Linked DNA regions of Homo sapiens: region 2 is linked to region 1. The links come from fine-mapping of genetic effects on gene expression. A gene starts in region 1. The other region holds a variant in brackets. All regions are shown on one strand. Distances are from middle to middle. Region 1 holds the start of TRIM71 (tripartite motif containing 71). Region 2 has its middle 50 kb from the start of CCR4.

Region 1 (2,907 bases):
AGACTCAGGCTGGTGAAGGTAACGTCGTCCCTTTATTCCGCTTCTATCTCGGGGTGCAGCCGTGGGCCCACGAACGGCGATTTCACGCTAGGAGAATTCAGGGGCCAGAACACGCATTTTAAACAATATAGGAAGCAGCCGCAGAGAGAGAAGGGCTTAAGACTGGGGGCCCTTGGCCCTCAAAGATCCACAGACGCTCCCACTCTTACCCAACATAAGGAGGCAAGGACTGCCATGCTGTCCCAACAACAAAAAAACCAGTCTTCCCCTCACAAGTGCGCACGTGGAAACCAGGTCTACGGAGGCACACAAACTCCACGCACTCACCCACACAACCATCTCTTCCGGGCTCACGCCCCATTTTAAAGGCAACAATCTATGAGTTTTCCAAACAAAAATCTGAAAATAAAGGAGCGCCTTCTCAGCACGTTGGGAGGCCTCTGGTGTGCCCACAAGAGCAGGAGCAGGCCACGTCTACACAAACACACACACCTATCTCCTCCCAACTCACGCCTAACTCAAGACGATTGCCGCGTTTTGCCACACAGAAATTAAAATCAGAAAAGGGAGGACCCCACGCTATGGGATTTTTCGGAGCCCCTCGCGACACGTACACAGAATCCACTTCCACATACTTCCCAGGTCATGATCTACTTTGGTAGCAAGGACTGCCACGTAGCCAAAGGAAATACAAACCAAATCCGGAGAGGGCCTCCTCCCCTCGCTGTGGGACCGGCCGGGAAACGCTGTTGAGCACACACGCAGTTATCCGATGGACACAAACACACGCCCCCACGCACTCACCTCGTCGTCGTGGTGCTGGCAGAAGCCGAGGCGCTCGGGAAACACTGAGAGGATGGAGAAGGGCGGGCCGGGAAAGGGCGGCCCGAGCCCGAGCTGCTGCGCCGCTGCTGCGGCACCGGGACCCGGCGGGCCGCGCTCGATGTAGTGGTCCTTGGTGAGGCGCACGCGCTGGTGCGCTCGGACGCAGTTGTCGCACAGGTGCTCCTGGCAGTCGAGGCAGCGCGAAGAAGCTGCGTTGCCCTCATCGCACGAGCTGCAGCCGTGAGGACGGCGGAGCAGCAGCGCCGACGGGGAAGCGGCAGGGCCGCCGGGTGCCGAGCGGGAAGGCGCGGGCGGCTGCGGCGCCTGCGGGAGTGGCGGCGCGGAGGCGGACGCGCGCGGGTGCGCGTGGTGAGCGTGGTGCCGGTGGTTGCTGTGGCCGCCCGCTCCCGCCGGAGCGCCGGCGCGCCCGTTCTTGGGCGGCGGCTCGTCGGCAGTGGCCACCACCGCGTCGAGCAGGTTGCTAAGCAGGAAGGCGGACGAAGGCAGCGCGTCCATACCCGCCGCCTCGGCTAGCACTACTTTCTGGTCGCACACGGGGCAGCGCAGCTTGAGCGGCTCTCCCGCCGCGCCGCCGCCCGCCGCCGGCAGCCGGTGCGCCTCGAGGCAGGGGCGGCAGAAGGCGTGCAGGCAGGGCAGGACGTGTAGGCGGCGCGCCGCCGCCCCAGGGCCCCCGCCGCCGCCCCCCGACGACGTGGACGTCTGCGAGGAGGACGACGACGCGGACGAGTTGGAGGAGAGCGGCGCCGGCGAGCCGCACATCTCCTTGCACAGCAAGCAGATCTGGAAATCGGTCTCGGGGAACGAAGCCATTTGCAACCCAGCCCGGAGGAGGGAGGAGACCAGAGAGGAAGAGGAGGAGGAGGAGGAGAGAGCGGACGAGGTGGGTGGGGGAGTCACCGACTCACTCAGAAAAATGCATCGATTAGGCCTGCAATCCGGGAGCCGGCACCAGAGCAGCGCTGCCCGCTTGGCCTCGCCACGTCCGGCCCGAGCGCTGCCACCCCCGACACTGCAGGCATTAAATGCCACTATCCAGCGGCGACACAGATTCCTCCGGATAACTTGGGGGCCGCGTGCCTTCCGAAGAGGGAACGCCGGAACAAGCCCCGACAGGCGAGGGGCGAGCGGGGGCAGGGAGGTCGGAAGACTCCCTGGAGCAGCTGAGGCTTCCCTTCGCGATAGACGAAAGGAGTTCCCAAAAGGAGAGTTCGCTGTGCAGTCCCAGTCCCGGCGAGAGCAGAATTTGGTTCCACGAGTATTTGGTGCGTTGCTTTTCTTTAAACGGATTTAGTCTGTTCTTGGGAGGGGAAGGAGCCCCAAACTAGTAAAGGCGGGAGCGGTGCGTCGCCAAGCCGGTGTCTCCCCGCGCGACGTCGGCTGCCCCGCCGCATGACGCGGCGGCCAGGGGCTCCTGGGTGGCCCGGCGTGCTGCGCTTGGGGCTTGCGCACAGCCAGGCACGGCCTCCCCTGCAGGGCGGTGGGCCCCGCAGCAGCTGCAGCTCGTGGTGGCCCAGCCGCGGCCGCACGCGTGCAGTACGCACGCGCGTCCCACGCGCCTCGAGTCTTCCGCGCGCCTGCCCAGCCGGGCCGCGGCTGCCCGCGCTTAACACGCACGCGCGCCCCACGCGGCCCGGAGCCCTCGTGCCCCCGCCTCGCCTGGCCTGGGCGCCTCACGCACGCTCCTTCCCCTTCGGCTTAGCGCGCGGGGCCGCAGGTCCCCGCGGGCCGCCCTGAATTATTCATCGGCAGGAAGATATTAGATGTACCCGCTCCGCGCGGGCCGTCGTGCAATGCTATCCGAGCTCCGCGCGCGCCCTGCGCCCCTCCTCCTCCTCACGTCCGTCCTCTCTGAAACCTTGGCAGAGAAGGGGGATCACATTTCCTTTGTCATCGGGCCATTTCGCCCTCGCCTTGGTCCCCCCTCCGATCCCGAGCCTCGGGGATGGAGGCTCCTCTCGGGCGCGCTGGAATCAGTGGAACCGGCAACAGCCCCGCGCGGCGAGCTCGGGAGCCGCGTGGCCAACGCCGCCGGCTCGCGCCCGCGTCATCTTCTTTCTGAAA
Region 2 (2,907 bases), 84 kb before region 1:
GGTGTGTTTACAATCCCTGAGCTGGATATAAAGACTTTCCACGTCCCCACCAGACTCAGGAGCCCAGCTGGCTTCACCCAGTGGATCCCGCAGGGGGTTGCTGCAGGTGGAGCTGCCTGCAGGTGGAGCTGCCTGCCAGTCCCGCGCCATGCGCTCGCACTCCTCAGCTCTTGGGCGGTCGATGGGACTGGGCGCCGTGGAGCAGGGGGCGGCATTCGTCGGGGAAGCTCGGGCTGCACAGGAACCCATGGAGGCGGGGGAAGGCTCAGGCATGGCGGGCTGCAGTCCCGAGGCCTGCCCCGTGAGAAAGCAGCTAAGGCCCGGCGAGAAATTGAGCGCAGCGCCTGTGGGCCGGCACTGCTGGGGTACCCAGTACACCCTCCGCAGCCGCTGGCCCGGGTGCTAAGCCCCTCACTGCCCGGGGCGGGCAGGGCCGGCGGGCCGCTCCGAGTGCGGGGCCCGCCAAGCCCACGCCCACCCAGAACTCCAGCTGGCCCGCAAGCGCTGCTCGCAGCCCTGGTTCCTGCTCGCGCCTCTCCCTCCACACCTCCTTGCAAGCTGAGGGAGCCGGCTCTGGCCTTGGCCAGCCCAGAAAGGGGCTCCCACAGTGCAGCGGCGGGCCGAAGGGCTCCTCAAGTGCCGCCAAAGTGGGAACCCAGGCAGAGGAGGCGCCAAGAGCAAGCGAGGGCTCTGAGGACTGCCAGCACGCTGTCACCTCTCATTTTGACAGGTTAAGCATGTATTACAATCTCATGGATAATGACCATGAAACTAACGAGACATTCGTTTCTGTCTCCTTTAGGAAGCCAAGTTGGCTTTTCTGCCCTGATGGTGCTTGTTGTGTTGGTTATGTGATTGTGTTTTTGTCAAAATTCACAGAACCATGTTCTAAAATGTGTGAAATTTATTGTGTGTAAAGTATACCTAGACCAAAAAAATGCTAGTCTCTAAAAGTTGAATTGTCTGAATATTCCACCAGAGTATATGCTTCCAGTGTTTTATTCTAGTCCTCATTAATTAAATTTTAAAAATTTGGATTGTTGCTTGGGAGACATGAAAGTCTTTTTTTTTTTTTTTTTTTTTTTTTTTTTTCAGACGTTGTCTCACTGTCACCCAGGCTGGAGTCCAGTGGCGCCATCTAGGCTCACTGCAACCTCCGCCTTGCAGATTCAAGCAATTCTCCTGCCTCAGCCTCCTGAGTAGCTGGGATTACATGCATGTGCCAGCCACCACACCTAGGTAATTTTTTTGTATTTTTAGTAGAGACAGGGTTTCACCATGTTCGTCAAGCTGGTCTTGAACTCCTGACCTCAGGTGATCCACCCACCTGGGTCTCCCAAAGTGCTGGGATTACAGGTGTGAGCCACCACGCCGGGCCAGATTCCCGGCCTGAAATGCATTTTTAAAGTCTATTGCTATATACTTAGGGACAAAGATGGTTGTTAAAGGTAGAGAAAACAAAACATTCAACATGTCTTGAGGAAAAGGAAGTGTTGGTGGGGGTGAGGTGGGGGCAGTTGCTTGTCTGTCCTGGAAAGGCAATTTCTTACCGCTTCATACCCATTTTATACCCATTCCATTCTTTCTAGAAACACAGATTTCTGTCCTCATTGTTTTCATATTTGTCTCCTATTGTCATGTTTTATGAGCAAGTCATAAAGGGAGGAAGAGGGAAAACAAAGTTCTGAGGCTTTC[T/G]TAATCTACTTGCTCAACCTGCATTTTTAGTAACCATAAAGAAATTGGTTGGGCTCACTTTTACAGCTTCCTCTTCTAGCAAGAAGTCCCACCACATGCCATCCACCTAGCCACTTAATGCTCGTCGAACAAGTCAAATCTATAGCAAATATGTAGTCTTGTTTTGTACTTTTTTTCAAATGTTATGTAAAAGGTATACTGTAAAATCATACTAGAACTTCTTTCACCCAATGATTTTTAGATGTACCTACACACATGTAGCGTCCCCATTCACTTTAACTTGCACTGAATAAATATATCAAATGTACTCTTCTATCTCCCCACTGACAAGATACTTGGCATTACGTACTCCAGACAACCAGGCAGCGACTGTTTTAAGTCTTCTTATGCTGTTGTTTGTGCTAGAATTTCTCCACAGCATATTTTGGAGGTGAAATTACTGGATCCGTGTGTATGTGTACATCTTCACCTTTACTAGGTATTGACAAATTCCCCTGCAAACAGGTTGTACTCCTTTTCACTCCCACCAGCTGTGTAGGACAGTTCCCATTTCTCACCAACAGTTGCTATAATTAGACTTTCCTATTTCTATCCAAAGGATGAGTATAACATTGTATCTTATTGTTGCTTTGGTCTGTATTTCCCTGAGTTCTAGGGTAGTTGAGCTCGGTAAATAACTTAACCCCACCCTTTGCCTCGTTGTTTTTAATTGGGGTATGTTTTCCTTATTGTAGTTCTTTAAATATTCTGGATGGCAATCCTTTATTAGTTATACCTTTATATTCTCCCATTCTGAGGCTTATGCTTTCGCTTCTTTAATATTGTTGTTTTTCAAGTTTCAATTTTTGTAAGTTAAAAATTGATATATAGTAGTTGGACATATTTTGGGGGTCCATATGAGTTTTGAAACTTGTATAACATGTGATTATCAAATCAGTGTACTTCGGATATCCATCGCCTCAAATATTTATCTTTGTGCTAGGAACAATACAAATCTTTTATTTTGAAATTTACAATAAATTATTGACAATTTCCCTACTGTACTTCATTGAACTAATTTTTAAAACATAAAAAACACACAACAAGTGTATACATTTTTATCACATGTGCATTCCTGGTTGCCTGGCGTGCTGCTCTTGTGTCAGCCTCTCCCAGATCCAGGCTGATGACACTTCCTGCCATCAGGAATACTAGGATACTGCCTGTGGTCAT

Evidence for each region.
Region 2: its variant is fine-mapped to the expression of TRIM71 in monocytes (TOPMed, PIP above 0.99). The same link has a PIP of 0.9 or more in blood mononuclear cells.

The regions. Positions count from the first base shown.
Region 1 is chr3:32,816,830-32,819,736 of GRCh38, reverse strand. TRIM71 (tripartite motif containing 71) reads right to left here and starts at 1,740. Exons shown (of 4, transcript NM_001039111.3): 1 at 805-1,740. The coding sequence starts at 1,656. RefSeq lists an enhancer at 699-1,280.
Region 2 is chr3:32,900,426-32,903,332 of GRCh38, reverse strand. No RefSeq gene overlaps it. Among named protein-coding and RNA genes, the nearest start is that of CCR4, 50 kb to the left of the region's middle. RefSeq lists silencers at 1-150, 174-329, 371-450. The variant T/G (reference allele first, on the strand shown) is at 1,696.